Linked DNA regions of Homo sapiens. The protein of the gene in region 7 purifies or fractionates together with the protein of the main gene of each other region. This does not show direct contact. Each region holds a gene or a part of one and is shown on either strand. Other genes may lie near its edges.

Region 1 (4,025 bases), on a different chromosome or scaffold from region 7:
GCTGGGACTGCAGAAGCGCACCACCATGCCCAGCTAATTTTTGTATTTTGTTTTTGTTTTTTTTTAGATGGAGTCTCGCTCTGTCGCCCAGGTTGGAGTGCAGTGGCGCGATCTCGGCTCACTGCAAGCTCCGCCTCCCGGGCTCACGCCATTCTCCTGCCTGCGCCTCCCGAGGAGCTGGGACTACAGGCGCCTGCCACCACGCCCAGCTAATTTTTTGTATTTTTTTAGTAGAGACGGGGTTTCACTGTGTTAGCCAGAGTAGTCTCAATCTCCTGACCTCGTGATCCGCCCGCCTCCGACTCCCAAAGTGCTGGGATTACAGGCATGAGCCACCGCGCCCGGCCAATTTTTGTATTTTTAGTAGACGGGGTTTCGCCATGTTGGCCAGGATGGTCTCGATCTCTTGATCTTGTGATCCGCCCGCCTCAGCCTCCCAAAGTGCTGGGATTACAGGCGTAAACCACCGCGCCCGGCCGCAACTCCCTTCTCTCTCCTCTACGAACTGTGATGAACAAAGCCTTTCATCTCCTGCAGGAACCTCGGCTCCTACCCTCGTTCTCCCTCTGCCCTCCACCCTCCATCTACCCTCATAGCCCTCAGACTGTCTTCACATCCCAAGGATCCCCTCCTCTACCCTGCCTCATATTCTCCTCTGGGAGCCCCTTCTTGGCTCTCCATCTGAGAGGGCCCAAGCCTGTTTCTCAGTACTTTCCTCCCCCAGAATTATCTCCACTGCATCTATTTGGCTTTTGTGTCTGCATTTACACCTATGCCTGCATCCTGGGGGCATGTGCCATCTCCCTCTTTGGGCAGAGAGAGTTGCTGTGTCTTCCTTGCCCTTGCTAACCACTCCCCCCTCTTCCACTATCCCCCTGGCCTCCAGCTGCTAGTGCACAGGGCAAGTCTCTGCATTTATGGTGCCACTGAGGACAACGAGAGAGTGATGGATGACAAGGGGTGCTCCCTTAGAGAAAAACCAGCCCTGGTTCTCCATCTTATTTCTGAAAAAGAGTTTGTTGGATGCTTTTCAATTAAAAGCAGATGATTAATTCAGCCCTGGCCTTGTTCTGTCTTTGAATAACAGATACATTAGTTTACTTGAAAAGAAATATTTTCATTTGTATTTCCATGTCACTTGTGATTTTCCCTGCCTTGCACCCTCAGCCCTGCCAGTTGGCAAGAAGACAGTCAGCTTTGCTGCTAAGAGGAGTATAAAGAGGGCTTGGTCCAAGCAAGAAGGCAGTGGTCTACTCCATCGGCAACATGCTGGTCCTTTATGGTAAGTGGATATGGTCCAGTCGCAACCCTGGTCCTTTATGGTAAGTGGATCATGTGGCCTGAGGTCTATAGGGAGGGGGACTTGGGCAGGAAGGTCAGCAAATTTTCCCTAAGTCCAGGCCAGCACCCTGTCCCAGGGCAGGTGGGACGCTCTGCCTGCAGAGCGTCCTTTACTCTCCTGGAGGCCAAGATAGAAAAGGTCAGGGCCACTGGCTATTCAGGCCCCTCTGGGTGGCAGGTCCCTGGGCCACAAAGCAGAGAGAAGCCCCATCTGGTAGTGGGGTGGGTCCCTGGGCTTCCCCACCACCCCCATTGACAGGAGGACTTCCTCAGCAGGTGCCTGGCTGGGGTGTGCACTGCAGGCCCTGAACCCTGGAGAATCTTGCCAAAGCATTAGGGGGCTGGTGGGGGTCAAAGAGTGGGGGGGGGTCTCTTCAGGCCAAAGGGTGATCTTGAGCAAAGAGGAGACCACAAGGAGCCTCTGGGGCCTAGCCTGGTGGTTTGAGAGAGGTCCTTCATAGCATGCCGGAGTTCTGGGAACACCTGGGGGAAACAGAAGGCACCCAGGCACCCCTGTTTTCAAAAGGGGCTCAGAGAACTCACAGCTGGGCCCCTCATTCGTTAGAGAGGAACTGTGAATTTGCAGACAAGGCTAACATTCCTCAAAGCACAATCGCCACCCCCCACCCCTACCCCTGGCTGACCCCATGCTTAGTCATCACTCACTTTTCTTCTGCCCCACAAAGGACACAGCACCCAGGACCTTCCGGAAACCAATGCCCGCGTAGTCGGAGGGACTGAGGCCGGGAGGAATTCCTGGCCCTCTCAGGTGGGTGTTCCTTCCCAGCCCCAGACTTCCACCCAAATAAGAGCTCAGTGCATGACATAAGGTATCATGTGTATTTGTGCATGTCCCTATCAACAAGCAGCTCTCCAATTGTCTAGGTTCTCGATTTTAAAGATGGATGGGATCAGGCTTAGGTGGTTTTCTAAATGCAAAAGGCTTGGAGGAGGGGATTTATACACCAACCACAGTCCCTCTTCAAGGCACACACCCAAACACAAGATACATTTATATTCTCAGCGACAGCACTTGTGCCACGCAAGAAAGACTGGGTGCCAGACAGTCACCTTGGACTCCACATACCTTGAAACTCACACGCACACCACTCCACACTGTGTGTGTCACAATGCTTGCACGCATGTGCGCGCACACACACACACACACACGTACAGCATGCTGCTTAGTTGGCTATTTAGAGTTTCCACTTTGCTAACAGGGCAGCTGGGCCCTGATTTAAGTGATCTAAATATGTAAACCTGGCAAATTAACTGATGAAGATCCACACTTTGAGAAGATATCACTGCAATCAGAGTTTTAGCTTATAAAAGTCTGAGCCCCAGTTTTCAGGAGTAGAGCTATTACATAACATGAGGTGCTAGAAGAAGAGACATGAACTGATAAAAACAAACATCCTATTGGTATTTTTTTTTTTTTGAGATGGAGTTTTGCTCTCATTGCCCAGGCTAGAGTGCAATGGCATGATCTCGGCTCACTGCAAACTCTGCCTCCTGGGTTCAAGCAGTTCTCCTGCGTCAGCCTCCTGAGTAGCTGGGATTACAGGCGCCTGTCACCATGCCCAGCTAATTTTTGTATTTTTAGTAGAGACGGGGTTTCACCATGTTGGCCAGGCTGGTCTCAAACTCCTGACCTCAGGTGATCCACCCGCCTCAGCCTCCCAAAGTGCTGGGATTACAGGCATGAGCCACAGCGCCTGGCCTCCCATTGGTATTTCTAAGTAGTCCCTGAAGTGGGGAGACAGGAGATGTCTTGAAAACACTAAAGGTACAGCTCTGGAGACCTAAGCCTGTTGGGCTTAGGTGATGGAGCAAATCTTTGCCTATAGTTCCTCTTTTTTGGGGGAGGAGAGGGGGCGATGGAGTCTCGCTCTGTCACCAGGCTGCAGTGCAGTGACGCTATCTCAGCTCACTGTAACCTCCACCTCCTGGGTTCAAGCAATTCTCCTGCCTCAGCCTCCTGAGTAGCTGGGACTACAGGTGCATGCCACCACGCCCGACTAATTTTTGCATTTTTAGTAGAGATGGGGTTTCACCATGTTGGCCAGGATGGTCTTGATCTCCTGACCTGGTGATCCACCCGCCTTGGCCTCCCAATGTGCTAGGATCACAGGCGTGAGCCATGGTGCCTGGCCTATAGTTCCTCTTTAAGGGAGAACAGAGGTAGAAGGAGTTCCAAAAAAGGAGTTACAATGGGTTCTAGGTCCATTGCAACAACCTAGAGAGATAATGCCAAATACACTGTGTGCCTTTACTCCTCCATCCATGTACACAGCAAACATCACCAAGCGATGGAGCATCCCTTCCTGCTGGCCCCAGAAGCATCTACACACCCCTTATCAATGCCACACTCCAGGTGGCCACTACCAAGCAATCAGTAGCAATTGGCAGGTCAGATGAAACCTATTTGCCATCTCTAGCCTAGAAAGAGAATGTTTTGAAGGACAGCAGGACTTTAAGGAGGTGACATGTAGTTTGAGGCAAAGTCTTTTATATTTAATTATTTTTGACGTTGTAGAGGCGAGGTCTCACTATGTTGCCCAGGCTGGTCTCCAGCTCCTAGGCTCAACTGATCCTCCTGCCTCAGCCTTCCAAAGTTCTGGGATTACTGGCATGAGCCACTGCAACCGACCTGGGGCAAAACCATTTGAGAAACACCAACCTAT
Region 2 (3,500 bases), on a different chromosome or scaffold from region 7:
CCTGTCCCTTTCAGGTCAAATAATACCAATGGGTACCAAGAGATTGAACAGGCCTACTTTTTGCAGACCAGGCTACCTGTGGCCCTGGGAAACGTTAAGCTCTGCACTTTCCTAATCATCTTAGGTTTTAGCATGCCCATCCAGATGCGGTTTTGGTGTTTCAGCTGACCTATCTCTGCCCAGTGTGGAGGATATACAGTACTCTGTGGTTCTTCCCTTCAAGTAATAATAGGATTCTCCACTGCCCAGGAAGCAAAGATCCTGGGTGAGGGATTGGGGAAAGAGTAGAATGCCCCAGCAACTCAGTCACATTACCAGATGGCTGACAACACCTTCGGCTATCCTCCACTCCAAAGAGATTTCCCAAATATGTCAACCCCTCCAGGCAAGAAACTGACAGTGTGATGGTACTCTCAGGCAGAACAGGGCCAAGGACAGAAGGGGATTAGCCTAAATCTGGCTTTCTGCCACACTGGGGTTTCTCTTATTAGATAAAAGCCACAGATAAAATTCAAATGAAAGAGTATCAGAAAGTTAGGCTTGAGCCCTGTGAGTAAAGGACTATTTGAGTTCACTGTGCTCACAAATGCATTACCCAGGGAGATACCGTGTCCTTGGGGAATTTAAACTTCACCAAAGGGGAGGCAAGTTGGAAGGGAGTAGAGCTATCTGCCCCACAGTAAACAAAGGCGGAGCCTAAGCAGGGGTAAAGGGCTATCTGCCTCTCCCCTGTGAGTGTGTGTTCTAGTACTGGGGAAAGAGAAAGGAAAGCAAAGCAACCAAAGAAAGGTTGCTTAGTCCACCAGGCCCACGAATAGAAGAGAACCACACAACAGTCAAGCATTCTAACCTCTCCAGAGACTAGGAATTTAGGATTAAGGCCAGAATCAAAGCCCACTCCCTCGGTAGTACTCTTAAGGTTTTTGTTATTACTTTTTTTTTTCTTTTTGAGGCAGAGGTAGTGTGCTGACCTTACACTCCCGCAGTTGACCCCTCACTCCCCCAGTGCCGATACTCGCCCAGGCTGGAGTACAGTGGCATGATCCAATCCTGGTTCACTGCCACCTCCGCCTCCAGGGTTGAAGCAATTCTTGTGCCTCAGCCTCCCAAGTAGCTGGGATTACAGGCATGCGCCACCATGCCCAGCTAATTTTTTGTATTTTTAGTAGAGATGGGGTTTCATCAGATCCACAGGTGGACCTCAGATCCACCCGCCTAGGCCTCCCAAAGGGCTGGGATTACAGGTGTGAGCCACCGCACCCAGCCTCTTAAGTTTTTTAGACTAGAAAAAAATTAAAAAGAGAAAAATATCAGGGACAATTAGGAGAGAGTTATTAAAAACAGATAAGGTGAACTGTACATTTATAAATGGTTAAAATGGTAAATTTTACATGTATTTTTATCACCACTACCACAAAAAAAAAGAGATAAGGAAAAAGACTGCATTTAAACATTATGTTGCCATCTGTTTCCATTTAGACAGAAGTAAAAAGGAAATACAGAACTGAAAGTAAATTTGACAAGGTGCTACATTATAAAAGACCAATTTCCAGGCCGAGAGCAGAAAAGAAAGATGGATCCTAGAACACCAGTGTCTCAGTTTTAGACTCATCTAGCTTCCCAACAAGGGTGGCTTGGATGTTCACACAAAGTAACCAGGAAAATAATTAAGTGACAATCCCACTAACAGCATGAGATACCATCAGAGAGTGCAGTTTCCCGCTCCAGAGGAGGGAGGAGTCTGCAAAACCCACATTCCAGAATGCCTTAAGAGGATAACAGGTAGCCCAAGCAACCCCCCTCCCTTCCCACAGGTGTCTCCTCCTCAGTAGGGGTTCAAAGTTCAGCAGAGCAGCAGAAAGTCAAAAGATTAAGCTTCTTCAGGCTGGGGAGTAGAAGAAATGATTTCATCAATATTTAACTATAACTCTACTTCCCCATTCTGAGGACTTCCTCACTAGACCTCAGCTCAATAAGCAAATTTGGCAGGCTCTGAGTGAAAGTAGCTTAAGAAACATCACCCCAGGACAGGCGCAGTGGCTCATGCCTGTAATCTCAGCACTTTGGGAGGCTGAGGCAGGCAGATCACTTGAGGTCAGGAGTTTGAAACCAGCCTGGCCAACATGGTGAAACCCCATCTCTACTAAAAATAAAAAAATAAAATAATAAAAAAAAATCGCCGAGTGTGGTGGTGGATGCCTGTAATCCCAGCCACTCAGGAGGCTAAGGCAGGAGAATCACTTGAGCCTGGGAGGTGGAGGTTGCAGTGAGCAGAGATCGTGCAACTGCATTCCAGGCTGGGCTACAGAGCAAGTCTCCATCTAAAAAAAAAAAGAGGGGGGATGGGAGGCAGGAATCACCCACCTTAGAACTACTCCTAGAATGTCCATATTTAAATACTGAGCCTAAGATTCTGCAGCTCAACACATGGCCAGTTCCTCTGTCTTCCCCTTTAAAGCTATCTGGTCTCCAGAACAAAGGAGATGAGAAAGTGCCACTGGCCATAAAGAGTCACCCAGCCAGTCCATCTCACTTGCACAGATAATAAGAAGTTGTTGGCAAACTGAACAGAGGAAAAAAATCTACCTAGAAAAAGGTGTCTGAGGAAGACAACAAGCTCCCATCCCAGCATCTCCATGACCACTTATAAAAATAAGTGAGTATTCCAACAATCTTTAAGTATTTAAACTGGAGGGCAGCTGTCCCCCAATTACCATCCTTTTCTGAAATCCACCCCTCCCCCTCCCAAAAACATTCTCAGTTATTTCCCAGAGGAGCAGCCAAAAAGAAAAACAAAAACAAAAACTTACCAAGGGAAAGAACAAAGAACAAAGAATAAACCACATGAGTACTTTCACTGGATCTTGAATTTTAGCAACAGTTACTTTACTCTCTCAAGATCCTCCAAAACAAAGCCTCAACTCGTATCAGCTCCATCTATTAGACTGCACCCTAGACCTTGGAAAATCTTATGGCTTACACTAAAACTAATCAGCCACTTTTAAACAGAAAGACGTTTAAAGAAATCACTAGAATAGGCTGGGCACGGTGGATCACACCTGTAATCCCAGCACTTTGGGAGGCAGAGGTGGGTGGATCACCTGAGGTCAGGAGTTCGAGACCAGCCTGGCCAACATGGCGAAACCCCGTCTCTACCAAAAATACAAAAAATTAGCCAGACTTGGTGGCGGGCACCTGTAATCCCAGCTACTCAGGAGGCTGAGGCAGGAGAATCACTTGAACCCGGGAGGCGGAGGTTGCAATGAGCCGAGATCATGCCATTGCACTCCAGCCTGAGCGACAGAGTGAGACTCTGTCTCAAAAAAAAGAAAGGAAGAAAGAAATCACTAGAATCACTGTTCACTCCACCAACATTTTATGTTTCCACTTTCAGTTGAACAAATATTCCACTAGAGTCACCTGGAATTCATTATTGTCTCCACCAAATTGCCCAAGTCAATCAGAAACCTTGAGACTGGCACACCATCTGATTCTCTGCC
Region 3 (3,500 bases), on a different chromosome or scaffold from region 7:
TTCTACCCATTAATTAATTCCTCATCCTCCCCTGGCTCTCCATTGTCTTTTATTTCACACTGTGTCCAGGTGTACACATTATTTAGTTCCTAAGTGCGAACACATGGTATTTGTTGTAATAACTTTATTGAGGTATAATTCACATACCACAAAGTACAGTTCAATTCAGTGGTTTTTCAGTATATTCACAGTTGTGTATGCATCACTCCTGTCAACTTCCAGAACATTTTCATTACTTCAGAAAGGAACCCATACTCATTAGCAGTCACTCCCCATTCCCCTTTTTTCTCAACCTCTGGAAACCACTAATCTACCTACTGTCTGTTGATTTTACCCAATTTGAACATTGCATATAAATAGAATCATGCAATAGGTGCCCTTTTCTGTCTGGCTTCTTTCACTTAGCACAGTGTTTGTCAAGGTTCATCCTTGTAGCATGTATCAGTACCTCATTTTTTTAATGGCCAAGAAATATTCCATTGTGTGGATATACTACATCTTAAAAATCTATTCATCACTAAATGGACTTTAGGATTGTTTTCACTTTTGGTCTATTTTGAATAATGTTACTATGAACATTTGTGTACAGGTGTTGGTATGGACACATTTTCATTTCTCTTGAGTATATATACCTAAGAGTGGAATTCCTAGGTCAGGTGTTAACTTTATGTTTAACTTTTTGAGGAACTGCCAAACTGTTTGCCAAAGCAGCTGTACCCTTTTACAGTTCTACAGTAGCATATCAGGGTTCCAAGTTCTCCATGGCCCCACAAACATTTGTTATTGTCCATCTTTTTTATTTTAGCCCTCCTAGTGGGTGACTCATTATGGTTTTGAAGTGAAGAGGTATCTCATTATGGTTTTGATTTGCTTTTCCCTAATCACTATTGATGTTGAGCATTTTTTCCACGTCCTTATTAACCATTTATACATCTTTGGAGAACTGTCTATTTAAATCCTTTAAAACTGTTTTTTAATTGAAGTATTTGCCTTTTTTTATAATTGAGTTGTAAGGGTTCTTTATTCTGACAAGTTCCTTGTAGGATTTTTGGATGTTTTCTCTCATTCTGTTGGTTATCTTCATCTTATATGCATTTTTATTTCTTAAATGATTTGACATTTGGGTATCATTAATATTTTTCCATTGTTTAGTATTTAAATTCTATTGCTTATGATTCATTTTTCCCTTTTTATTAAAAAAATTTTAGAGGCACGGTCTCCCTATGTTGCCCACACTGGTCTCAAACGCCTGAACTCAAGTGATCTTCCTGCCCTCTCCCTCTAAAGTGCTGAGACTACAGGCATAGCTACTACCCAGCCTAAAGATACCATTCTTGACTCAAAGCATGGTTTTACATAAATTGACCATATGACCCAACAATTCCACTCCTAGTTTTCTACCCAAGAGAATTAAAAACATGCCCACACAAAACCTTGTACACGAGTGTTTATAGCAGTGTTAATAGTCAAAAAGTGGAAACAACCCAAATGTCTATCAACTGATGAATAGATAAGGAAAATGTGGGATATCCAAACAATGGAACATTATTCAACAGTAAAAAGAATGAAGTAACCAGCCGCTTTGTCATGCACCTGCAGCCCTGGCTATCTGGGAGGCCAAGGCAGGAGGACTGCCCAATTTTAGGAGTTCAAGGCTGTAGTGTGCTATGATCATTCCTGTTAATAGCCACTAGGCTGCAGCCTGGGCAACATAACGAGACCCCATCTCTCATGCACCCCATCCTGCATCATGGCTGAACATTCCAGATACTTCACAGCTCCCACCTGCTTAGCCAGGGAAGGGCCTTGCTGAGGAGTCATTGGCACTTGGCTCTGCTCCTTCAGCTTCTTCACTGTCTCATGGTCACTCCACAGGTCCCTTTTGGTGCCTACCAGCATAACAGATACATTGAGGCAATGATGGGAGACCTCTGGGTACCACTTATGCCTCACATTGGCCTAAGAGGATGAGTTGCCAATGGAAAAACAAATGACAGAGATATTGGTCTTGGGGATAGGAGAACAGTCGCAGTTGGTCATATTCCTCCTCTTGGCCAGTGGTGTCCCACAGGTTCAGGCTGATGATTTGGCCATCCACAGATGTCTGGGTGCTGTAGTTGTCAAAGACATTGGGCATATACTCCTTAGGAAAGGCATTTGTTGTATAACTGATGGGGAGGCAGGCTTTGTCTACAGCCACATCTCCTGCAATCACACATTTGATTGTCTACATTCTTCCCTTAGTCTGATCATCCTCCAGTGCTGTTCAACCATGACTGGCAGAGCCTCCTGGGCATCTCTTGTTGGGCTTTATAATTCTTGCTTTAGAAAAGCTAACATGCAAAACAAAGTAGTTAATGAGGCATTAACAATTATGGATATAATAAAGTTAATGTAAATAGCACATTCCTCAAGATGAAAAAATTAAAAACTGGTTTAAGATCTTGTGCTATCAAGATTTTGTTTAACTGTCCTTCAGCCCAGAATAGCAAGTATAACATAGCGAAAGGTAATTTTTCTGGTCAGTATAATCCCTAATTAAGCTACCCTCTTTATTATAGCAGTAGACATTTTCTTATTTATTCTAATCTTAGTTTAAAATTTGGAATTTTTAAGTGAAATTTTAATGGCAAGTGTGACTAATACTGAATATTGATCACATAATTTTGAAATGTGAGTAGAGCAAAGACCTCTTAATAAATCTTTTTTTTTATTAGAGAAAGAGATGCTGTAGGGATGGAAATTTCCCAGTCTAGCAGCTATGACCAGCTACTGTGTATTACAAAAGGAATTTTAGGTATCATGAATATACACACTGGGAAGATGATCTGCCTGTAGTCAAGGCTCTAAGCAACCTGTATAAGAAGAAAATAACCCAGCACCTTAGGAAACACTTCTTTTAAGGTTCTAGGGTAGGAGAGGCTGCTATAGTTGAATGTTTCCTTACCCCTGTGCAGTAGTGAGGAATGGCATATATTTGTGATCTTTTAAAAAGTTTGATGTCTAAAATTAGTAGTGATTACAGCTCAAATTTCTAGTTTTTTAATTAGATGATATACCTTTAAAATGTTAAATATATGCCAATCTATAAGCAGAATTTATTATTTTATGTTTGGCACAATAAAAATTGTAAGTCTTTTTCTCATGTATTTTCTCATCATAGGCCTCAGGAGTGCAAGTAGCTGATGAAGTATGTCGCATTTTTTATGACATGAAAGTTCGTAAATGCTCCACACCAGAAGAAATCAAGAAAAGAAAGAAGGCTGTCATTTTTTGTCTCAGTGCAGACAAAAAGTGCATCATTGTAGAAGAAGGCAAAGAGATCTTGGTTGGAGATGTTGGTGTAACCATAACTGATCCTTTCAAGCATTTTGTGGGAATGCTTCCTGAAAAAGATTGTCGCTATGCTTTGTATGATGCAAGCTTTGAAACAAAAGAATCCAGAAAAGAAGAGTTGATGTTTTTTTTGTGGTAAGCATGTTAGAAATATTGAGCCTCTG
Region 4 (3,500 bases), on a different chromosome or scaffold from region 7:
ACCCACAGAAAATACAAATTTGTTAACCAGCAGAAATTGTAATAAGATTCTTCTTAAATATGAATGACAGTCCTTTGCTCTAATGAATTCTTTATGTTGCTGTCTCCAAGTAGAAGGCCCATGAGCTAAACAAAACCCTATAACCTTGAATAACATACTTTTAACCTGTGACCAAAATCTTAAACTAAAGCAAACCCACTTATACGTCAAGATATTTGTTTCTAAAAGATGTTTTTCTTAACTTGAAAAAAAAGAATACCTTTAAAAGTAGTCTAAAACTATTTTATAAAAATACTATTCTGAGAAACATATCTTCTTTGTAATTTCAAAAAATAATCATATAATGAAATTTACAAAGGACAACATTTAGTCTCTCATACCCAAACGTAATAATTTTTTCTTTTCTCTCAATATGTAATAACATTCAAACACATAATAGATTATAGTCATTGTTATGACTCCTGACCACTGGGAGATATCTGTTCCTATGGGGAAATTGTGTATGTAATTATGAAAAAATTATGTAATTGTGAAAAAAAAAACACAGTATTTCCTACCTATAAGTTTCAGCATACCACACAACTAAAAATGGTGTTTAGAATACTTTCTTTTTTGCTTTGCACTTGTTTCCTTAGTTAAGTGACATACGTTTTCAGAATAACAAGACTACATTTAAGTTTTCCATGCATGCACTAATTCATTTAAATTTAAATAATTCAAATAATTCATTTAAATAATTCAAATAAATTTTTTTGAATTATTAATCAAATAAAAGCATTTAAATCAACTAATTAAAAACCCATTAGTTAAAATCATGACAAAAGGAACCAAGACTGTGACTGTGTTAAAACAAAACATATTTTAATACAGGCTTACACCTAGAAAATGGATAGTAAGACATCCATGTGAATGCTGAGTGGGAAACACAGAGGAAAAGAAGAGAGACAGTTCTCACTACAGGATCTTTTGGCACCTCTACAGCATTAGGCAAGGAAAAACAATTATGTGAGGATAAGCTGGGTGAGCACTGTATCCTAAGAGCTGATAATTTAGAGGAGAGTGGAAAAGAAACAGAAGTAGGGAAGTCGGAATCACAAAATAAATGATGCTTACAAAAGAATATCAGTATATTCCAAACTAGTCTTATAACTGATAGCTGTTCTCCCATTCTCTCTTGGGATGAAGTGTGGTCTTACCCTGCCAAACAGAGTCTTAAAAGCTGCAGAGATTTCCTGGCGCTGAGCATTACTTCGGGATGTCAACAGAGTCAGGATGCTCTCCTCATCTGTGCCTGCAATTTATGGTTAACAATTACATTTTGGCTCCTACATGCATACTCTCCCAACGATCTTGGCAACTCGCTTCCCAGTCACCTTATTTCCTTGCCTCTCCCTATGCGAATATAAAATATATTTTATGGCCGGCGCAGTGGCTCACATCTGTAATCCTAGCTCTTTGGGAGGCCAAGATGGGAGGATTGCTTGAGGCCAGGAGTTCAAGACCTGCCTGGTCAACATAGTGAGACCCCCATCTCTTAGAAAAAAAAAAAATATGTATATATATATATATATACACACACACATATATATATACACACACACACACACAGACGCAAATACACACATATATATAAATGTTTTATTAAACAGTTTATTAAAAATTTACAATATATAAAATGTTACGTTTCCAATATATTCTACCCCCCATTCCCAACCTATTGTGAAGTAGATGGAAAAATACTTCTGCCTTTTAAAAAACTTAGGGCACCTAGTTTTTTAAAAACACACAAATAAGTATGAGCTAAGGCAAAATGTGACAAGTGCCTCAGGAGAGATCTAGGTGTTAAATGGGGCTCAAAGAAGGGTCTCCTAGCTGATAGGAGGTGGAAGGGAATCTTGGAGAATGATTCATGGAGAAGGTGACACCCACAAGTATTGAAGGATGGAAGGATTGTGAAAGGCAGTGACGAAAGGAAGGACAGCGTTTAGAATGAGAGAAAAGCTCAGCAGTGGGGAAATACAGGGCTTTCATAAACAGCAGATAAGCCAGGATGGTTGGGTCTGAGAACACATTAAACAGTAATGGGAGATGAGTCTGAAAAGGTGGGCTGGATACAATGGAAGGACTTACAGGGCCAGAAAGCACATGAACAGTAGTACAAAAGGAGCCTGAGCACAGGAGATCAGTGACACATGGAAATCCTTGAGATGAGAGGTTTTTAAATGACTAGAAAAGAGGCTGGGGAAAGAGAAGAGTCTAGCAGAATGAGAATGGGATATCTGATTGGGAACAGAGCTGCACAGCTGCCCACCTGCAGGGATGGCTGCCTTATCGACTCGGGCCTCTACCACACAGGTGAGGGTGACAAGCTCAAAAGCACAGAGGCTGAATTTAACTGCCTGTTCAGTTCTAGAGACTGAATATTAGGGATGGTTTATAGCAAGCTTGTCCAACCCATGGCCTGCAAGCCACATGTGGCCCAGGACAGCTCTGAATGCAGCCTAACACAAACTCATAAACTTTCTGAAAACATTATGAAATTTTTTTGCTTTTTTTTTTTTTTTAGCTCATCAGCTATCATTATTGTTAGTGTATTTTATGTGTGGCCCAAGATAATTCTTCCAATGTGGCCCAGAGAAGCCAAAAGACTGGACACTCTGGTTTATAGTATTATTTTGTTATCTTAACATATCTCTTCTCCTACAGATTTCAGATCAAAATATTCTAAAATTATTCTTACTGTAATTAATGACTTGTTTGGAAAAACAAATATCACATTTGCTTTAGAAAGAGGAAGCTAAATTTACCCAAGCCTTTCATAGCCTTCCGAAGAGTTTCTGCATCAGCCCGCTCATCAAATCCAGGGAAGTCAGTCACAGTGCCTCTGAGAACCTAATTCACGAAACACAGTGGTATTATTCATATCATGACTAATATGACAAAGTAAATAACACAAACAGGAAGCCGCTTGCTATATATCATATTCAGTCATTAAATAAATTTACCATTTGATAAGATTTGTGACCCCTTTTGAACTGGGAAGGGAACCATTTACAATGGGAATTGGCATGGCCGATTCAGCACAGAAGCTATCCTGATCACCTGTAATACCATCAGTGGGAAGGCTGGCTCCCTCTTCTCTGTGACGAAACCCCACCAACACCTCCTGGTTCACAGAGGGCACATCTTTGCAGGTTCCCTTCCCATTAAGTCTCACACCATTTTGATCTACAAGCATACTGAGCCCGCACTAAATCTTAATACCCTATCCTGAGTACTCAATTTTAAGCAGTGCTCTTGTTACGTGCCTTTTGATCTAAGTCCTGTTTCTGTATACATACTTAGGGACTTTACGATAACCCAGCAAAGCCTGAAATGATCGTTCACGTGCCAGAGGAATACAAATCTTTGAATTTAGAACTTTATAAAGGTGTATTGGAAGACATTCTTCATAAAGCTTCCTGTTACACATTACTTTATCATATATATACACTGCTTTT
Region 5 (2,577 bases), on a different chromosome or scaffold from region 7:
GGGCCTGCCCCATTCTCTGCTTTCCCTGTCTTTGCCTCCAGCCCTGGCTCTGGGAGAGATGAGAGGAAGGGCCAGGGTCCCCTTCTCCCTTCCCAGTGCCCTCACCTGCACTCCTCGCCCTCCAGCAGTTTGCGGTAGGTGGCGATCTCCACATCTAGGGCCAGCTTCACGTTCATCAGCTCCTGGTAGTCACGCAGCAGCCGCGCCAAGTCCTCCTTGGCCTGCTGCAGGGCCTCCTCCAGGTCATTCAACTTGTTCCTGGCATCCTTGAGGGCATGCTCCCCACGCTGCTCGGCATCTGCGATGGCATCTTGCACATTCTTACACTATGACAGAAGGACAGAGAATGGATTCTGCCTGACGGAGGCGGACAGAGAGCAGAGGTGTTCGAAGTGCAGGAAGCCAGAACCACTGGCCCTGGGAGTGTTAGGTCCCCTCTGGAGTTTAGTCGCAAACAACTGTGCTAAGACTTGCCGCTGTCTCTGGCACATCTTCTTCCCATGTCACCGTTGATGACACCCTTTGGCTTTCCCCATAGTGCCCTTTGATCCTCACATCACAGGGCCTGAATCATGATCCCATTTTACAGATGGAAATGAAAACATTTGAAATGGTCTGCTTGGCAAAGCTTCTGCTGCTGATGGAATCCACTCTCTGCCTCTACCTTTTCTATTCCAAAGCTAACGTCCAGCCCCAGGCCAGCTGCCCTCAATACTCACTGCCCCTCTATGAAACCAGTCGGCTGGTGCTCAGGGCCTGTGCTGAGCACAAACGGGAAGCTCCATCGGCAATCTGCAGCAAATCAATCAAACTAACGTTTGCTCTATTTGTTATGACTCCCTTTTCCTCATATAAACAAGTGAGCACAATTCTTTCCCTTCGATAATCCTTACTTTGGAATGTCTATTAGAGCACTCTAAGAATTGTTATAATAAGCCATAAATTATGTTAAGCTGGGGAATTTGGGATCGATACATGCTAGAGTGCAATATCTCAGTGTCTCTCATCTCTCACATGCACACTCACACACAACCACACTCTCACGCACACCCAGAGACAACCTCCCGCCCCTCGCTGGACAGGGCTGGGCCTCACCTGCTTCTTCACATGTGCGATCTCCCCCTGCAGCCTCTGGATCACGCGGTTCAGCTCGCTGATCTCTATCTTGATCTCTTTCAGGCTGTCTCCATGTCTCCCGACAGTCACCTGGAGCTCCTCATACTGATATGGGGAGAAGAGGACAGTTTGCAAGGAAGTTCCAGCCTGGCTCACATTCCAGACTGACTGGAGTGAAGGAGAGCTGGTTACTGGTCCAGGGAGGGTCAACCCAGCTAAATGTCATGGCTGCATTCATGAGAGGTAGGGACTGTCTCACATGCCCAAAAGGACTTGGTGCCATTCTCAACATCCTTTCTTGGGAATGGTGCCCAACTACCATTAAACAAAAAACCAATAACCTTACTGTACACTTTCCAGCTGGGGGTGCAACCCAGCTCATGGCAGGGAGCTGTGGCTCTTCCTACATTCCCTCTACTTGCCTTGCTGTGGTACAGGGCCTCCGCTTCTTCCTTGCTCCTCTGGGCGATCTCCTCATACTGGGCCTTGACCTCGGCGATGATGCTATCCAAGTCCAGGTTGCGGCTGTTGTCCATGGAGAGGATGACGTTGGTGTCAGTGACACTCTGATGTATCTGGGATATCTCCTACAACACACAGGAAGGTCTGGTCATGACATCCTGCCATAGCTACAGGCAGACAGGAGGCCTCTGTCTCCCAGCATAAGGGAAACGCAGACCCTCAGACTAAGCATACACTAGGTGGGATGAAAATCATGTAACCGTCTACTCCTGGGCCTCTCCCAAGGTTGTCCTGAGAATTGTAGTGAGAGGCACCTGTATTTCTGAGCCTCCTAGTTAACATTCAGCACTTAAGCCAGTTATGGTAAGTGCCCCCAGACAGAAGCTTGTCCATGGCAAATACCTTAAATGGACTTCCTGTTTCAGAAATCATCTGTGCACCCTTGGGTTGGGGAGGGGGATAGGAGACAAATGCATTTTGACCTCTGAAGTACAGTAGGCACAGGAATGGGCACAGGGCTTGTCTCTTCCCCAGGGGAAATGGACATCTGGGGAATGGAGGGAGGGGAAGCTGTCCTGGTGTTTCCTGAACCTTATTCCCATAACATCGGAGGAGAAAATTCCTCACCCACAAGACCTATGCTATGAAAGCCCCCCCAGTGGCCTGGAATGATGGCAGATTGAAGTCAGCTGGTCCATAAACCCCACTTCTGCCACTTTTTCACCAAGCAGAAAGGACTTTCATTTGGTGAGAAGGGTGGGAAGTAAGGGACTGTCCCGGAGCAGCCTCCTTACCGCATCATAGAGAACTTTCAGAAACTCAATTTCCTGGTTCAGCAGGTCCACCTTGGACTGCAACTCCACCTTTATCATGTAGGCATTGTCCACGTCCTGCAAGAAAGGTTGAGGCCTCTGGTGTATGGTTCCCTGTACAGGCCTCTTCCTCTCTCTGCCACTCCCCTCTACTCAGTCCCTGCTGGCTCCTCTCTAAAATCCCAGG
Region 6 (3,500 bases), on a different chromosome or scaffold from region 7:
CCAAATGATTACCATTTAATGGTCTTCAAAATTGTAAAATGCTCTCTGCCTCTGATCTGTTTCTCACTTTCTAAGGCCATTGAATCAATTTAGTAGACCAATTCAGCATTTTAAGGGAAAAACAGAAAAAGATGTGGTTTTGTCCATGTAGAGTCACCCTTTGCCTATTCTGGTCCAGAGCTGGTTTTCCTTCCAGTGGTTCTCATATGTCCTGTAAGGACTCAAGGATAAAGGGTGGCTGCAATGTCACAATTCTCTTGACAAAATTTCACTCAGGTTTAAACCAAAGGAAAAACCACAGCCCCATGCCCCAATTGTAGAGTTTGGCCAAAATTCCTTAGGAAACAGAAATCTCCCTTTGGATCTGGTGAAAACAGATTCATTTCTTTTCTAGGAATCCATGTGGTGTATGATCTTTCCCGAAAACCTGGAGACAGAGTAGTCAAATTAGATGTTCTTTGCACCAAGTGTCGAGTGCCCAGTTATGACCCTCTCAAAATGGACGAGGTATATAAGGTGATCCTCCCAAACTTCCTGGCCAATGGTGGAGATGGGTTCCAGATGATAAAAGATGAATTATTAAGACATGACTCTGGTAAGCATGACTGTCTCTTCCTTTCTCTAAAGAACAACAAAATTGGGCCAAGAAGGGGAGCTACTAGTGGTGCCAGGAGGGCAAAGTGACTCCCTGTATTGCTGACTCCCTCCTGCTTTGCTTGTTGGAAAGCAGCAGCACAGCACAGCAGAGAGGAATATGTACCCTGTCAATCCCCGAGCACACACATGCCTTCATCCAACCCCAGAGACAAAACATTTGTAAATCAAAAATGTTTTAAAATTCTTTTAACTACATCTAAGCAGCTATTTAAATTGTGAAATATAAGTGAGTTTTGCATTAACAGAAATATCACACCTCTGGAATTTTAGGATATGGAAAACCATCACATTAAATCATTTAAATTTTCTTTCTTGAAGAAGTTTCTGTGTGAATCAGTCAGGTAGAAGTGGATGGGGTGAGCGCCGCCCTTTCAGCACAGTGGGTTGGTGGTACAAATCATAGGAATAACCATACTTGATGTCAGTTGGTACTTCTGGCAGCATTGAGGGACATTATATGCCAGCCTCACTTTTAGAAATTCTGTTGAGAGTCACATTATGTGCATACAGACCACTGACATAGGACACACTTCCCCTTCCTCTTCCTAGGGCAGAGACCAGCATGCTTACAAGACACACAAGCAGCTTCTTGGCATCTCTGGGTAGTTCCACCAGGATCTTCCTCAGTCTTATCATGCTGGACCTGTCATTTTAGCTACTTATTCCAAGGAGCGTGGAGGGCAGGACCAGACCAAAGGAGGCAGCCCTTCCTGGGAGGAAAGGTGCTGGCTTCTTCTGTCCCTTCCGTGACAGAAGATGGAAGGGCAGGCGTAAAAGCCCCATGAGACAAAGAGGCTGATAGCCATCAGCTGTCCACCACTCAAGCCTAGACTGAAGGATGTTAGAGAGAGGAGCTCATGCAGAAGGCTAAGGAAGCCCTGGACCTAAGCGTTCTCAACACTGGTTATACATTAGAATCACTTCAGGAGCATTTTAAATTAAATACCAATGGCTCGGCCGCAGCTCTTAAGAGATTCTAAGTTAACTGGATTGGGGCTAAACTCTTTTTCAGTGATTCTAGTGTACACCCAGAGGTGAAAACCACTGAAGAGAGAAGGGTTCTTAAGTACTGGAGTGATATTTTTAAAATAAAATTCTGTTGGGTTCCCAACAGAACATGGGTTCCCAACAAACATGGGTTTGTTGTAGCTATAGGCAATTAGCATTTATCCTCTCCTCTCTTTGGTAAAGGAAATCCCCCAAGTCCCATCATCAATTACATGAAAATAATTATTGGGCAGGCAAACAAAAGGAAGCCAGTTTTATCTCTCAACTAATTGCTCTTGACCCAGTTCCCTAATGCCCTTGTTCTGGAGTGGTTCAAAGGCTATGATGTCAATGACCTCTTTCTAGAGTCATCACAGAGCTGAGGCAACTCTACTTCCCCCAATTACCCAATATTGAACAACAGACACATTTTACATCTGGAGCATGAAAAAGCAATCAAATTCTTTGTACTTATGATCACTAGCGTTCTTGTCTTCTGTGACACTTTACCCCTGCTTATGAAATTGCTTCCCTTTTATAATTACAAAGGACTACCTTACTGTTGATTGATAATTACCTTTTCTGTAGTTAAAATAATGTATATGTTTTTCTAGGTGACCAAGATATCAACGTGGTTTCTACATATATCTCCAAAATGAAAGTAATTTATCCAGCAGTTGAAGGTCGGATCAAGTTTTCCACAGGAAGTCACTGCCATGGAAGCTTTTCTTTAATATTTCTTTCACTTTGGGCAGTGATCTTTGTTTTATACCAATAGCCAAAAATTCTCCTTGCCTTTAATGTGTGAAACTGCATTTTTTCAAGTGAGATTCAAATCTGCCTTTTAGGACCTGGCTTTGTGACAGCAAAAACCATCTTTACAGGCTCCTAGAAGCTGAAGGTTAGAGCATTATAAAATGAAGAGACAGACATGATTACTCAGGGTCAGCAACCTAGTGAGTTAGAAAAAAAATTAACATAGGGCCCTATAAGGAGAAAGCCAACTATGTTAAGTTTACGTGTCCAAATTTTAATGAAATTTTACTAACAATTTTAAACCATATTTTTCTTCTTCATATCCATTTCTAATCCATCAAACAGCTTATGTTTACATAAAATTTTATCATTCACAAGGAAGTTTTAAGCACACTGTCTCATTTGATATCCACAACTTATTTTTGGTAGGAAAGAGAGATGTTTTTCCCACCTGTCAGATGAAAAAACTGAAGCTCAAAAAGGGTTGACTTGACCATACAGCTAATGCTGACAGATCCAAGACCTAGACCTAGGTCTTTTGAACTCAAGTCCAGCATTCTCAACTATATCAAGTTACTGTTCAGAATACTTAATATCTCCTCTCTTCATAATTATCAATAGCCCCAAGCTCATGGATGACAAATCTCTGCTTTATTTCTTGTCTCTATTTTTTCACTTTATAGCTCCTGTTATAATAGCAAGTTTAATGGTATAAACACAGGATACCATCCTCTCTTGCAACACCCATGTGCCTTTGATGAGTCAGGTAGCAAGCTGTAGTAGATAATGAGAAAGGCCAGAGGCTGCAAAAGACAGTCAAAGGACACGAGAGAAAGGAAGGGGAAGAACAGGACTCCAGGACTGTTTTATATTATAGAAAAGCAAGAGCTAAAGAGCATTTACACATGTTAAACAGATACTTGTTAAGCATAGTGCCTGACACACGGCATTAGCTGTTATTTTATGAGATTCCATCAGCTCTGCCTCTGTCCTCTTTCTTCTAACATGAAGGTATCATGAGAAGAGAACCTTCTAACATAAGCTGTAATTCTAAACCTGCACTTGTCCCTCTCCAGCAAGAGGCTAGCACTGAATTCATT
Region 7 (3,500 bases):
ATTATTTTTGATTTTTGAGATATTATCCCTTCTAGTTTTTCTCCTACCTTAATGATTGCTCTTTCAATTTCCTTTGCTGGCCTCTCCTATTTATCAGATCTTTAAATGTTTAAGTGCCACAGAGTCAAAAATTTTGCTTCTCCATTGAAACTCCCTCCAAACTTGACCCTATTCAGTCTTCTGGATTTAAATAATATAAAATACTATTGACTCCCAACTGTTTATATCCAGCATTGACCTCTCTCTGAGTTTCAAAGTTGTGTACCATTCACGTGTCTATGACATTTTACTAGGATATCTAGCAGGTGTCTCAAATTAAACATGTTTAAAAAAGAATACCCAACTTTCTGCCCTTACCTCCTCCCAAGCCCCATAACCTGCTTCTTATCTGATTTGCTTCTCAATAAATGATACCACTGCCTATTAAGTTGCTTAGGCCAAAACTTAATCATAATTCTTAGTTTCTTTCTAAATAGAACTTTCCTAAAATTCTATTTAGGCTTTTTCAACTATGGTTCTGAGAAAGAACTCAGCCCTGCTGATCTAAGACTGGATTAACTTCCCTCCTATGCATCTAGAATAGAATAGCACATCCTTAAGAGAACTAAGAAAGATGGGAACCTCAGTCAAGAAAGGCTGCTAGACTGTGAACAAGCCCCTCTATCCATTATTGTAACTCCAGAAAATGCCATCATATTTCACACAAGATAATGTAATAGGCTGTTACTGGTCTCACAATTCCTGTCCTCAACCCTTTTCAGACCCTTCTCCACACAACAAGCAAAGTCATCTTTGTAAAGTGTAAATCAGATTATAAACACCCCTTATTTTTATTCTCTAGAGGCTTCCTCCTTACATCATAATAAAACTCGAACTCCTTTTTGAGGTTTTGCAAGACTCTCCCTGATCTAAATTCTGCCTACCTCTCTCTGACTTCGTCTCCTGCTAGTCTCCTCTCTCTGCTTTCTTTGCCATACTGGTCTTCCTTCAATCCTTCAAATACGCAAAATAAATCCTGTGTCAGTGACTTTGCAGTTTCTGTTCTGTTTACCCAGAACACTGCTTGCCCTAGATCTATAAATAGCTGCCACCTTCCTAAACTTCAGGTCTCAGGTCAAGTGCTGCCTCCTCACAGAGACTTTCTCTGACTACCCCAATAGAACATGTCTCATCTGCTCCTCCCATCCCACTCCTCGGTTGTTTCCTTCACAGCACCTTTTACCCACTGAAATGATCTTTACTTACTTGTCTACACTTTTTAATGTCTGATTCCCACTACTAGAATACAAGATCTATGATGTTAAGAATTTTGTCTTGTTTATTGCCAAATACAGAGTAAGCAATCAAGAAATGTTAGTTCTATTATATAGTAAAAATATACGGAATCAATTTTGGATGAAGAAAAAAGTCACATGTAATTTGTAGTCTTAACTCACTGGAAGAGTGGTATTTAAATATTATTCTTTTGAAAAAACCAGTCATCTAGTTTCCCAAATAACGTGTGGAGAAATGACACTGGGAACATATTACTTACAGTTTCGTATGTAACAATTGGCAACTGATGACTTTGCCAGGAGTTCCATTCCCAAATCCTGCAATCTGCCAGAGTTTTCAGTTCCACATGCAGCCAGAGCTGCCTGGTCAGCAGAAAAAAGGCTTGTCTGCATGTCTCCAGAAGCAGCACTGCTGCTTTTTATTTCTGAAAGTGTATTCTTTACATCAGTTTTCATACATCGAACTTCGGCCATTTGAGTTTTGAGTCTTTTTAGCATCTTTAAATCAGAGGGCACTCGCCACATTGCCTGTTGCTTCCTTTGGTCTTTATCTTTTCGAGAATATGATGCTTCAGAGAAATTGACAAGTCATGTTAACATAAACGTTAATATTAATGAAATCATTTGTACCATGAATATATGCAAATTTGATGTGTAAAATAAGCTAGCGTGCTTTACGTGGTATCAACAATAAAACATGCACTAAATTCCATTAATGAAAATAAAGATAAAGAATCCTACCTTATTCACACCTTCAGAGTTAGAATCTGAGTCACATCATACTCAAGTTCGAATTACACATTTAATTCTAAAAGTTTAAAAGCTGCCCTACTGCCTTGTGCTTTCTTCTTTAAACTTCTCCACTTTTCTGAAACTTTCTACAGAGCTTTTATTATGTTTATAATTGAAAAAAAAGACAAAGAAAAATCTAGAAACCAAATACTTTGTCAAATCTGCCATATATAACATTATATTAAAAATACATATTTCTGGCCAGGTGCAGTGGCTTATGCCTGTAATCCCAGCACTTCAGGAGGCTGAGGTGAGAGAATCGCTTGAGGCCAGAAGTTCAAGATCAGCCAGGGGAGCATAGTGACACCCTATCTGTACAAAAAAAAATTTTTTTATTAGAACTTCCATTTCTGATAATTTTCTCAGAACTGTCAGCTTTCTGAAATACGGTTTGAATCTAACCACTTCTAAAATAAAACAATAGCTCTCCATGCCTAGTATGAATAAATTCCTCCGGCTAGCATGCAAGTCCTTTCATAGAATGGACCCAACATGACTCTAGTTCTACTTACCACTATATGTACCTTAAAATCTGGTTCAACTAGATTACCTGATACCTTTTACAGTACTCCTTTACATGGTTAAGAACATGAAGTTAATCTGACAAATGTTCACTAAATATGTGTTAAATAAATACACAGAAAAAAATAAACATCAAAGCCCAAGCAGGCCACGTGCAGTGGCTCACGCCTATAATCCCAGCACACTTTGGGAGGCCGAGGCAGGTGGATCACTTGAGCTCAGGAGTTTTGAGACAAACCTGGCCAACATGGTGAAACCTGTCTCTACAAAAAATTGTAGAGCACTCCAGCCTGGGCAACAGAGTGAGACTCTGTCTCAAAAACAAACAAACAATCAATCAAACAAAAAATGACCCAAGCAAGCCTTTTCAATAAAAAGAAAGTCATATATTTCTGCACACTAGCTTTTATTAACATCCCTTCACTGAAAGGTATTTTCATTTGGCTTCCATGAGTATTTTTTCTCCTTTCTAAAAGCTCTTTATCTGGCTCATCTTCCTGACACTCAGTAAAAACAGATATTCATCAGGATTATGTTCCTGGCTCTCTTCTTTTAAAATATTCTTAAAACTCCTTTGCAATCTCACACCCTTGGTTTTAATTATCCAGTATCACCTCCAGAAAAATAACTGTCTGTATTCCAGTTCATTTTTTTTTTTCATGGAGTTTCACTCGTTGCCCAGGCTGGAGTGCAATGGCACGATCTCGGCTCACTGCAACCTCCGACTCCCAGGTTTAAGCCATTCTCCTGCCTCAGCTTCCCAGGTAGCTGGGATTACAGGCACCTGCCACAATGGCCGGCTAATTTTTTGTATTTTTAGTAGAGACAGGGTTTCACCATGTTGGCTAGGCTGGTCTCGAACTCCTGACCTCAGGTGATCCACCCGCCTCAGCCTCCCCAAGTGTTGAGATT

Evidence for each region.
Region 1: the proteins of TRIM37 (region 7) and CELA1 purify together in Homo sapiens (affinity purification with mass spectrometry, with the first as the bait; one large-scale study listed by BioGRID). This does not show direct contact.
Region 2: the proteins of TRIM37 (region 7) and TPM3 purify together in Homo sapiens (affinity purification with mass spectrometry, with the first as the bait; one large-scale study listed by BioGRID). This does not show direct contact.
Region 3: the proteins of TRIM37 (region 7) and DSTN purify together in Homo sapiens (affinity purification with mass spectrometry, with the first as the bait; one large-scale study listed by BioGRID). This does not show direct contact.
Region 4: the proteins of TRIM37 (region 7) and ANXA5 purify together in Homo sapiens (affinity purification with mass spectrometry, with the first as the bait; one large-scale study listed by BioGRID). This does not show direct contact.
Region 5: the proteins of TRIM37 (region 7) and KRT2 purify together in Homo sapiens (affinity purification with mass spectrometry; 2 studies listed by BioGRID and IntAct, with this or other methods). This does not show direct contact.
Region 6: the proteins of TRIM37 (region 7) and NT5E purify together in Homo sapiens (affinity purification with mass spectrometry, with the first as the bait; one large-scale study listed by BioGRID). This does not show direct contact.

What each region holds. Positions count from the first base shown.
Region 1 is NC_000012.12:51,343,880-51,347,904, reverse strand, and holds the start of CELA1 (chymotrypsin-like elastase family member 1), read left to right. Parts: upstream 1-1,225; 5' UTR 1,226-1,266; coding exon 1,267-1,282; intron 1,283-2,027; coding exon 2,028-2,110; intron 2,111-4,025. UniProt on the Homo sapiens protein: Serine proteases that hydrolyze many proteins in addition to elastin.
Region 2 is NC_000001.11:154,178,601-154,182,100, forward strand, and holds part of TPM3 (tropomyosin alpha-3 chain), read right to left. Parts: intron 1-3,500. UniProt on the Homo sapiens protein: Binds to actin filaments in muscle and non-muscle cells. Plays a central role, in association with the troponin complex, in the calcium dependent regulation of vertebrate striated muscle contraction.
Region 3 is NC_000020.11:17,597,575-17,601,074, forward strand, and holds part of DSTN (destrin), read left to right. Parts: intron 1-3,163; coding exon 3,164-3,471; intron 3,472-3,500. UniProt on the Homo sapiens protein: Actin-depolymerizing protein. Severs actin filaments (F-actin) and binds to actin monomers (G-actin). Acts in a pH-independent manner.
Region 4 is NC_000004.12:121,683,481-121,686,980, forward strand, and holds part of ANXA5 (annexin A5), read right to left. Parts: intron 2,893-3,500; coding exon 2,808-2,892; intron 1,292-2,807; coding exon 1,197-1,291; intron 1-1,196. UniProt on the Homo sapiens protein: This protein is an anticoagulant protein that acts as an indirect inhibitor of the thromboplastin-specific complex, which is involved in the blood coagulation cascade.
Region 5 is NC_000012.12:52,646,635-52,649,211, forward strand, and holds part of KRT2 (keratin, type II cytoskeletal 2 epidermal), read right to left. Parts: intron 2,469-2,577; coding exon 2,373-2,468; intron 1,704-2,372; coding exon 1,539-1,703; intron 1,222-1,538; coding exon 1,096-1,221; intron 327-1,095; coding exon 106-326; intron 1-105.
Region 6 is NC_000006.12:85,491,583-85,495,082, forward strand, and holds part of NT5E (5'-nucleotidase isoform 1 preproprotein), read left to right. Parts: intron 1-394; coding exon 395-595; intron 596-2,258; coding exon 2,259-2,422; 3' UTR 2,423-3,500. UniProt on the Homo sapiens protein: Catalyzes the hydrolysis of nucleotide monophosphates, releasing inorganic phosphate and the corresponding nucleoside, with AMP being the preferred substrate. Shows a preference for ribonucleotide monophosphates over their equivalent deoxyribose forms.
Region 7 is NC_000017.11:59,026,881-59,030,380, forward strand, and holds part of TRIM37 (E3 ubiquitin-protein ligase TRIM37), read right to left. Parts: intron 1,844-3,500; coding exon 1,535-1,843; intron 1-1,534. UniProt on the Homo sapiens protein: E3 ubiquitin-protein ligase required to prevent centriole reduplication. Probably acts by ubiquitinating positive regulators of centriole reduplication.